2 separate regions of the Homo sapiens genome follow, and region 1 is linked to region 2. Evidence: fine-mapped expression QTL. A gene starts in region 2. The other region holds a variant in brackets. All regions are shown on one strand. Distances are from middle to middle.

Region 1 (5,382 bases), 130 kb after region 2:
GGAGGCCTAGCCTGGCCTGTCTGCCTGACCTTGCCAGGGAAGGTGCCCCAAGTGTGCTAGGAAAGAATGCCAGGCACCAACTCCATAGCCAGCCTCTCCTCCCACTGGTACCGCGGCCTGCCCGGCCTCCACCACCACTGAAGAGGGCAGGCGCGGGACACCCAGGGGTCAGGGAAGCTCCCAGAACGATGCCCTCCATCGGACCTCAGAGAGCACGGGCCTGACTGTGTCCATGCATGCGCCAGAGTGTGCTCTGTGTGTGTGCGCGTGTGGGTGAACCCACGTGTGAGTGTGCATGTGAGTGTGTGCAGGTGAACCCACACGTGAGTGTGCGTGTGAATACATACGAGTGAACCCACGTGTGGGAGTGTGTGAGTGCGGGTGAACCCACGCGTGTGTGTGTGAGTGCGTGTGGGTGAACCCAAGCATGAGTGTGAGTGTAGGTGAACCCACACATGTGTGTGTGAATGCGTGCGGGTGAACCCACGCATGTGAGTGCAGGTGAATCCACACGTGAGTGTGTGTGTGAACTTGTGGGGGGGAACCCATGCTTGAGTGTGTGTGTGCACGTGCAGCTCTGGCCACCCACTAACATTTGCTCAGCTCAGCCCTGCAGTGCGGGTGGACGCCCAGGGAGGCCATGCACTTGCCTGCAGTCCGAGTGCTGGGCTCTGGCCCCAGCCCTGCCCGTGTGCTGTGTGAGCCAGGGCATGGCACCTTCTGCCCCTCCATGAACCCAAGTCTCTTCCCTCACCAGTGAGAGCAAATCCCGGCACCACGACCGGAGCACCAGCACAGATGCAGGGTGAATGGCAGCACACACGCTCCCTGGGTGCCCTCGGGCCTTGGTCTCAGCTTTGGAACAGCAAATTGGCTGTGGGGAGGGGGTCTGCTTCCCCTTCTACCTCCTGAGTCCCCCTAGAGCCCACCTCCTCTGCTTCATCCCATGACCCCCTCTCTGGAAGAGCTCCCAGCTGCCCACTGCCTCCCACACCCCCTCTCCTCTGGCCTGTCCAGCCACGGTGGCTGGACAGAAACAACACACTGGATCACCCTGCCCTGGCCTGGAACCTCCTGCTGCTCCTCACTGCCATCCCATCGAGTTCACCCTCCCATGCCAGCCCTTGCCCCAAATCCTCAGGGCACCACGTGCACCCTCAAAACTGTCCTCGCAGGGCCCCTGGGGCCCTTCCACATGCTCTCCCGGTGGCATGGACGTGCCCCTTCCTGGCCCTCTCCCGATGACCTCACAGCTCAGCCTCCCTGCCTTCCTCCAGGTCTTCCCTGCCTGTACCAGGCTTTCCCCGGCAAGCTCACACCACGCAGGGTCCTGAGTGGATGCCACTCGTTTATTCCTCTATTTCCCCCACTCTACCATCTCAGAGCTTTTTGAGGGCAAAGCAATTTCTCTGTATCCCCAGAGCCTAACTCATGGCTGCTGTTTGATACTTTAAATAAATAAATAAATAAATAGGCCGGGCGCAGTGACTCACGCTTGTACTCCCAACACTTTGGGAGGCCGAGGTGGGTGGATCACCTGAGGTTGGGAGTTCGAGACCAGTCTGACCAACATGGAGAAACCCCATCTCTACTAAAAATACAAAATTAGCCCGGTATGGTGGCACATGCCTGCAATCCCAGCTACTCAGGAGGCTGAGGCAGGAGAATCGCTTGAACCTGGGATGTGCAGGTTGCGGTAAGCTGAGATCACACGACTGCACTCCAGGCTGGGCAAAAAGAGTGAAACTCCCTCTCAAAATTTTAAAAAATCATAAATAAATAAATGACATAATTGAAATACATTATGAAACTTTTCTGGATCCATTTCCTCATCTAGAAAATAAAGAGGTTGAATTTCTGACAGTCCAGACTCCCCTCCACGCCTTTAAATGCCGGCTCTGGCCCAACTGAAAGACCAGGAGTGGTTCGTGAGAGCAGTTCCCACTGCTTCAGCCCCAATTCAGATAAATCCACCTTTGTTGAAGCCACGTTGTGCCAGATGCCACAGAGAATTTTCAGAGGGCACACAAGCAGTGAAGACGCCTGTGAGGACGGGTGAGGCTCAGAGCGGAGATCAGGTGAGGACGGGTGAGGCTCAGAGCGGAGATCAGGTGAGGACGGGTGAGGCTCAGAGTGGAGATCAGGGGAGGACGGGTGAGGCTCAGAGTGCAGATCAGGGGAGGACGGGTGAGGCTCAGAGTGCAGATCAGGGACGCATTACTGAGATGTAGCGTGTGGATGGGGCCAGGAGGAACGAGGGGCTCTGATGGGACTGAGGGTGTGGTGGGAACGGCACTACAAGTGGGAAGGCAGGATGCTGCCAAGGCAGGGCATGGCGTCCACTCCCAGCCATGATAAAAATCACGGGTGTCCGTCAGGCTCATCCTCCTTCTATAAACAATTGTTTAACTGGATGAAATGTAAATGAACTGTTTTCAGGCACTGCACAACAGATATTTCCACGTGCACCCAAGCTTTCTGCTGGGAGGTACTTTCCAAACCACAGGACAAGGAAGTGGGGACTCAACCCAGCACAGATGTCTCAACAGGCAGAGAAGCAGAGCGGGGAGTATGGGGCTGCCGAGGTGTCCGCAACTTGCGGCGAACAGAAAGGAGGAAGCTGTGCAAAGAAAAGGAGCCCAGGAATCTGTACAGGAGTTCCCTTGAGCCGTATAGGAAGGACTTCACAAGGCCTGGCCAAGACAAAGCGTTTTGCATGGAGGAAAGAGTTTGGAGGTAAAACAGTGCTGGAAGACACTGTGTGACCCAAACAGCTTGAGTGGAAAG[A/G]CCTCGCTGACAACCCCAGTAAGGCAGGTCTCAGGAGGACTATCCTAGCCACAGGCTAAGGATTGCTTGAGAACCTGCCCTCGCAAAGTCTAAACTCAAGCTGACAGCCATCTCCTAGAACAAAACTTCCCATCTTTAAAGATGACAACATCATCCAAACTCTCAATATAGCCTCCATGATGTTCAGCATACAATAAAAATTATTATATATGCAAAGAAGCAGGCAAATTTAACCAGAAGAGAAGTTGATAGAACAGAGCCAGAGATGACACAGATGTTGGAATTCAAAGAGAAAGATTTAAAAGAAGAGAAAGACATGAGTGAGGAGATAGAGATTCTCAAAAGAATGGAAACTATGGAAGGGGAAATGATATTAAAAAATCTAGAACTAAATATTATAATATCTAAAATTTAAAATTCACTAGATGAGTCCAACAGAGGATTGGACTACAGAAGAAATGGTTAGCAAACTTGAAGATGGATACATAAAAACAATCCAAAGAGCCTAGGCATGGCAGGTCATGCCTATAATCCCGGCCCTGTGGGAGGCTAACACGGGTGATCACCTGAGGTCAGGAGTTCGAGACCAACCTGGCCAATAGGCTGAAACCCCATCTCTACTAAAAATACAAAAATTAGCCAGGCATCGTGGCACATACCTGTAATCCCAGCTTCCCAGGAGGCTCAGGCACGAGAATCGCCTCAACCAGGGAGGCAGAGGTTGCAATGAACTGAAATCGTGCCACTGCACTCCAGCCTGGGTGACAGAGTGAGACTCCCTCTCAAAACAAACAAAATCTTTGACTTCTAATCAGAAACAATGCAAGCCAGAGGACAATGGAACAGTATCTTTAGAGTGTTAGAACTGTGAGCTCAAAATCCTACACTCTGCAGGAAAAAAAAGTCCTTCAAAAATTAAGGTGAGATAAAGCATTCAGATAAACAAAATCTGAGAAAATGAATCACTAGAAGAACTGTACATAAATAAATGTGAAGGAAGCCCTTCAGGCTGAAGGGAAATGATGCCACATGGAATTTCAGATCCACACAAAGACGTGAAGAGCCCTGGAGGTGGCAAACATGAAGTAAATAGAAAGTCCCCTTTACCCACGTATTAATATAAAGTCTGCTTTACTCATATATTAATATAAAGTCTGCTTTACTCATGTATTAATATAAAGTCTGCTTTACTCATGAATTAATATAAAGTCCCCTTTACTCCTGTATTGATAAAGTCCCCTTTACTCATATATTAATATAAAGTCCCCTTTACTCCTGTATTAAGATAAAGTCCCCTTTACTCATATATTAATATAAAGTCTGTTTTACTCATATATTAATATAAAGTCTGCTTTACTCATGTATTAATATAAAGTCTGCTTTACTCATGAATTAATATAAAGTCCCCTTTACTCCTGTATTAAGTCCCCTTTACTCATATATTAATATAAAGTCCCCTTTACTCATATATTAATATAAAGTCCCCTTTACTCATATATTAATATAAAGTCTGCTTTACTCCTGTATTAATATAAAGTCCCCTTTACTCATATATTAATATAAAGTCCCCTTTACTCATGTATTAATATAAAGTCTGCTTTACTCCTGTATTAATATAAAGTCCCCTTTACTCATATATTAATATAAAGTCCCCTTTACTCATATATTAATATAAAGTCTGCTTTACTCCTGTATTAATATAAAGTCCCCTTTACTCATATATTAATATAAAGTCCCCTTTACTCATATATTAATATAAAGTCTGCTTTACTCCTGTATTAATATAAAGTCCCCTTTACTCATATATTAATATAAAGTCTGCTTTACTCATATATTAATATAAAGTCTGCTTTACTCATGTATTAATATAAAGTCCGCTTTACTCATGAATTAATATAAAGTCCCCTTTACTCCTGTATTAAGATAAAGTCCCCTTTACTCATATATTAATATAAAGTCCCCTTTACTCATATATTAATATAAAGTCCCCTTTACTCATATATTAATATAAAGTCCCCTTTACTCATATATTAATATAAAGTTCCCTTTACTCATATATTAATATAAAGTCTGCTTTACTCATGTATTAATATAAAGTCCCCTTTACTCATATATTAATATAAAGTCCCCTTTACTCATATATTAATATAAAGTCTGCTTTACTCCTGTATTAATATAAAGTCCCCTTTACTCATATATTAATATAAAGTCCCCTTTACTCATGTATTAATATAAAGTCTGCTTTACTCCTGTATTAAGTCCCCTTTACTCATATATTAATATAAAGTCCCCTTTACTCATATATTAATATAAAGTCTGCTTTACTCCTGTATTAATATAAAGTCCCCTTTACTCATATATTAATATAAAGTCCCCTTTACTCATATATTAATATAAAGTCTGCTTTACTCCTGTATTAATATAAAGTCCCCTTTACCCATATATTAATATAAAGTCCCCTTTACTCCTGTATTAATATAAAGTCCGCTTTACTCATATATTAATATAAAGTCCCCTTTACTCATATATTAATATAAAGTCCCCTTTACTCATATATTAATATAAAGTCCCCTTTACTCATATATTAATATAAAG
Region 2 (5,328 bases):
ACCACGTGCTGCTCGCATTGCTGCTGTCTTAATGGGCTTTGCTGTGCGGCAGAGGAGGGTGGGCAGGTGGTAATGAAGGAGACTGATGACTCCGTGGCTAGAGTAACTGAATGGTTGTGAGTGTCTGGTCAGACTGGCAATGGGGGGCGTGCCCTGTGAGCCTATGATGAGGGGCTGCCTGGGTGGGCACCGGCTGGTGCTTTAGAGAGGACTGAGGGTGTGGCTAGGGCCACCACGTGTGAGTCCGTCTCCCTCCTCTGTGACACATGGGTGTGCAGGTGCGCCCACGTGTATGTATATGTGACACGCTGCACGCATGCTCGCTGATGCGAACTCACACACGCGCCCACGTGTCCCAGGCAGACTGAAGCAGGGCCCACAGGGGAATGAAGCTGGGATGGGCGCCACCAGAGAGGTCGCATCGCACAGGGGCGGATGCAGAACGGGGGCAGCGGCTGGCCCAGGACGGTCAGGGCCTGGCTGGCAGAGCCTGGGGTCCTGTGCCCACCCTGTGCTCCTAAGGCCCTGGGCCAGCCTGGGAGCACCATGGATTCTGAAGATGTGCTGACTGGCCTGCAGGCACCAAGCTCCACCCATTCCAGCTCCGACAGGGCCCTGGGGAGCCCACTGGTCAGGGACTGTGGGCAAGAAGAAGACCCCTCTGCTGAGCCTGCAGCCTGTGTTTGGAGCTGGGCTAGGAACCTTCTGGAACGTGCCTTCCACCGGACAGAACCTTCCAGAACGTGCCTTCCACGGGACGGAAACTTCCGGAACATGCCTTCCACAGCATGGAAACTTCTGGAACGTGGCTTCCATGGGATGGAACCTTCCGGAACGTGCCTTCCATGGGACAGAACCTTCTGGAATGTGCCTTCCACGGGACCCTCTCATGCCCTTGCACAACTGCACCATTTTCCTGTGTCACCGAGGAGGACGTGGGCTCCGAGCCGCTGAGTGACCTGTTGGGGGCAGGGCTGGCGCTGGCCGTCCCAGCTTAAGGACTTGCCACAGCTTAAGACCCATGGAAGGAAGGTACGGGGAGGTGCTGAAGGGATGAAGGGCAGAGCTGGGCCTTGGGGCAAGGCCAGTGGCAGCGCCGGGCTCCTGGACACAGCAGATGGCCCCAGGCAACTGGCCCTGCCCTGCCCTGGAGACCCCTCCGCCTCCGAGTCCTCCACGTCCTTCCACCTGGATGCCGCCACAGCCCACCTGGGCCTGGCTTCACGCCCCCAGCTCTTGCCGGGTATGACGGGTGGGCATGGAGGGTGACTCAGCCCAGCCCAGGAAGGACCAGCCGCGTGGCAGGAAGACGGAGGGAGTGCCCGGAGCCAGCAGGGCGGCCACCGAAACCCCGCACTGACGCAGGGACCGAGGCACCCGGGGCCAGTTTCCGGGAGAGCCCCACGATGGCCCCTCCATTCCTCTTAGGCTTCCCGCCCAGGGCGGGCTGGTGCGGGGACCGGGAACTGGTGTGACCCAAGACACATCACCCGCGTGTCCTCTCACATCCCATTCCACCAACACCAAGGTTCCTTCTGGAGGCTCCTGGGAGAATCCATTTTCCGCCTCTTCCGGCTTCGGGAGGCCTCTCCTTGGCTGGGGGCCCCTCACGAAGCCAGTAGTGGCAGGCCAGTCCCCCTCACGCCCGCCTCCGCCATGGCCTCCCTCTTCCACTCAGCAGGACGGAGGTACCCTGTGCCCTCGCGGGTCACCCAGGGCAGCCTCCCTGTTGAGGGAGCTGATGTGCCGTCCACAGTCGCAGGTCCCCGCTGCTGTGTGAACTCACAGGTCCCAGGGTGAGGAAGCGGGGTCTTCGGGGCAAGGAAGCGGGGGGTCTTTGGGTGAGGAAGCGGGGGGTCTTCGGGTGAGGAAGCGGGGGGTCTTCGGGTGAGGAAGCGGGGGGTCTTCGGGTGAGGAAGCGGGGGGTCTTCGGGGCCGTCATTCTGCCACCCACAGATGGGAGCCTCCTCATGAGGCGTCCGGCCTCAGTGGCAGCTGGAGAGCCACAGGGGCTGTGGGGTGCCCAGCAGGGCGGGCTCAGTACTGCCCGCAGGACCACCCTGCAGTTAGGGCGACTCAGCGGCTCACAGCCTTCTCAGTTCAGTTCCTATCAGCTGACCGAGGCGGCCCCACCCCACCTGCCCTTGCCCTAGGAGCTGGGGATCTCCATCCAGCAAGACTGCGAACCAGGCCACCTCTGAGACCGGCTGCCACAGACCACATGCTGGCCCTGGCTGCCCGCTAAGGCCAGGGGACACCCTCCTTGAGACTCCCAGGGTGATGCTCAGCTCCTGAGGACCGAGCGGCCTCTGCATGGCGCTCCGTCCCCATCCCTCCGCCTCTCCAGATCTGCCTGGCTCAACGCACAATCATCCTGGGCCCTCCCAGCCTTACCTGGCCAAACCGTGGCCTTGCCCACCTGCCTGGACCATTCCCTCCTGATTGGGTGCGATCTGCAGACAGCAGTGTAAGTACTGCATGGAGGAGCCGCGGCCCGACGCCCACAGCACGCGCCACGTCCGTAAGCTGCACCCAGTCCAGCCTGGTGGCTCCCCGTGTGAGCCTGAGCTTGCCGGCCAGAGGGGACGACCTTGGGCTTTGGCCCCAAGCTCGTGATTCACACCCTCGCCCTCAACTCGCCTGCCTCAGCGGCTCATGTGCAAAGCAGGCTGAGCGCGCTGCCTTCAGTGGGTGTGAGAACCCTGGGAAGGCACCTCGAGGGGTGTCAGAACCCGGCAGGTGCCTCCAGTGTGGGGTGAGCGTGCGCTGGGTATGTGGGGACCTGCGGCAGCGCCCTCCGCCCACCCTCAGACGGGCTGGTGCTCAGGGGGTGCCTGTTGGGCCCAGGACCCACCCCTTCCGTGCACCCGCCTGTGGGGACCTACGGGCTTCCTGCTCAGAGAGAGGCAGATGAGCCCCACGTTGCTACCGCGGTCGTCCATCCCGTGCTCTTGTCTGTGCCGGCAGCTGGCAGGAGATGCTGCGGCCGTCGTGCGTGATGGATCATGAGGTGCAGTCACGGATGTTTATCCTCCAGTGACCTCGTCTCTCTTGTGGCTGCTGAGGAGATGCACATGGGGCGTGATCATTCGTATTGATCAATTTGCTGCTCATTTGCCACGTCGTCAATGTTTTCACACAGGGTCCACTTTACTCTTCCAGGCAGGAAAGCGGCTGCACCGACCTGCGGCCAGGAAGAAGGGGACAGAATCGACTCCCAGGGGGTCTGGGGGGAGCAGGAGTCTGCTCTGGCTCAGGAAGGCTCTAGAAGGGCCACCAAGAGCAGCCGCAACAGTGCACAAGGACCTTGTGATGAGAGCTACCTGAGCGAGTCCCAACCTGATCAGACGCACCATGTAGGGGGAGCCGGGGCCCCATTGCAGCTGCCTCGGGGAAGCAGTGACCACAGGCCCGGCTGAACCTGATGGTGACGGGGAAGGGAGGGACTGGTGTGCACACAGGTGTCCATGTGCCTGTATGTATGCAGGTGTGTGTGTGACACACACATACATGTGATATACGCAGGCGTGTGAGATACACATACATGTGACATATGCAGGCGTGTGAGATACACATACATGTGATATATGCAGGCGTGTGTGAGACACATACCTGTGGTGTATGCAGCTGTGAGACACATACATGTGATATATGCAGGTGTGTGAGACACACACATGATAGATGCAGGCGTGTGAGGCATATATGTGTATGCAGGTGTGTGAGACACATACAAGTGATATATGCAGATGTGTGTGACATACATGTGGTGTATGCAGGCATGTGTGACACATATACATGTGATATATGCAGGCGTGTGTGAGACATACATACCTGTGGTGTATGCAGGCGTGTGAGATACACATACATGTGACATATGCAGGCGTGAGACATACATACCTGTGGTGTATGCAGGCGTGTGAGATACACATACATGTGACATATGCAGGCGTGTGAGATACACATACATGTGACATATGCAGGCGTGAGACATACATACCTGTGGTGTATGCAGGTGTGAGACACATACATGTGACTTATGCAGGCGTGTGAGACACATACATGTGACATATGCAGGCGTGTGAGACACACATACATGTGACATATGCAGGCGTGACATACATACCTGTGGTGTATGCAGGTGTGTGATACACATACATGTGACATATGCAGGCGTGTGACATATACGTGTGACATGCAGGCGTGTGAGATACACATACATGTGACATATGCAGGCGTGAGACATGCATACCTGTGGTGTATGCAGGCGTGTGAGACACATACATGTGACATGCAGGCATGTGAGATACACATACATGTGACATATGCAGGCGTGAGACATACATCCCTGTGGTGTATGCAGGCGTGTGAGATACACATACATGTGACACATGTAGGCGTGTGAGACACATGTGACATGCAGGCGTGTGACTTACATACCTGTGGTGTATGCAGGCGTGTGAGACACACATGCATGTGACTTATGCAGGCGTGTGAGACACACATACATGTGACATATGCAGGCGTGAGACATACATACCTGTGGTGTATGCAGGCGTGTGAGATACACATACATGTGACATATGCAGGCATGTGAGATACACATACATGTGACATGCAGGCGTGTGAGATACATACATGTGACATGCAGGCGTGAGACATACATACCTGTGGTGTATGCAGGCGTGAGACACACATGCATGTGACTTATGCAGGCGTGAGACACATACATGTGACATATGCAGGCGTGTGACATACATACCTGTGGTGTATGCAGGCGTGTGAGATACACATACATGTGACGTATGCAGGCATGTGACATACATACCTGTGGTCCACACCTGTCTGCACACGCCTCCTGTTACTGATGGTTAACTCAGTGGCTGGCACACTCACCACCTTCTCACTGTGGCTGGCAACAAGCTGCTGTTCTGCACCAGGACCTCCTCTCAGGCTCCCAGCAAAGGAGGCCGGCAGCTTTGACACGAGGGTCCGGGAGCCGTGGCTCCTCCAGGTTAGTGGTGCACACAGCGCTTGCCACACCGCCCACTGCCTCACTCCGTGCTGTGCCTGGTGCTGCGTGGGTCCTGAGGCTCCTGCTCCTGACCCTGGTGCCGCTGGGACAGAGTCCAGGTGGGAGGGCAGTGTGTGGTGTGTGTGTGGCCAGTCCCCAGGGACAGGACGCCCGAGGGAACAAAGCCCCCACCCCTTGGCCAGGGCTAGAAGGGCCCCGAGAGAGCAGCAGCCGCAGTTCACAGAGTAGGGAAACTGAGGCAGAGCAGGCTCAGGTCTTGTGTGTTGGGCCTGGACACCTGGCAGGAAGGCAGCCCC

What was found. PIP is the estimated chance that this variant, and not a neighbour inherited with it, causes the effect.
Region 1: its variant is fine-mapped to the expression of LINC00304 in whole blood (TOPMed, PIP above 0.99).

What each region holds. Positions count from the first base shown.
Region 1 is chr16:89,029,330-89,034,711 of GRCh38, reverse strand. No RefSeq gene overlaps it. Among named protein-coding and RNA genes, the nearest start is that of CBFA2T3, 55 kb to the right of the region's middle. RefSeq lists enhancers at 1-273, 2,483-2,542, 2,553-2,612. The variant A/G (reference allele first, on the strand shown) is at 2,788.
Region 2 is chr16:89,156,948-89,162,275 of GRCh38, reverse strand. It overlaps LINC00304 (long intergenic non-protein coding RNA 304), which reads right to left and starts at 3,056. Exons shown (of 4, transcript NR_024347.2): 1 at 2,886-3,056; 2 at 2,395-2,568; 3 at 717-2,060. RefSeq lists enhancers at 2,108-2,607, 2,991-3,160.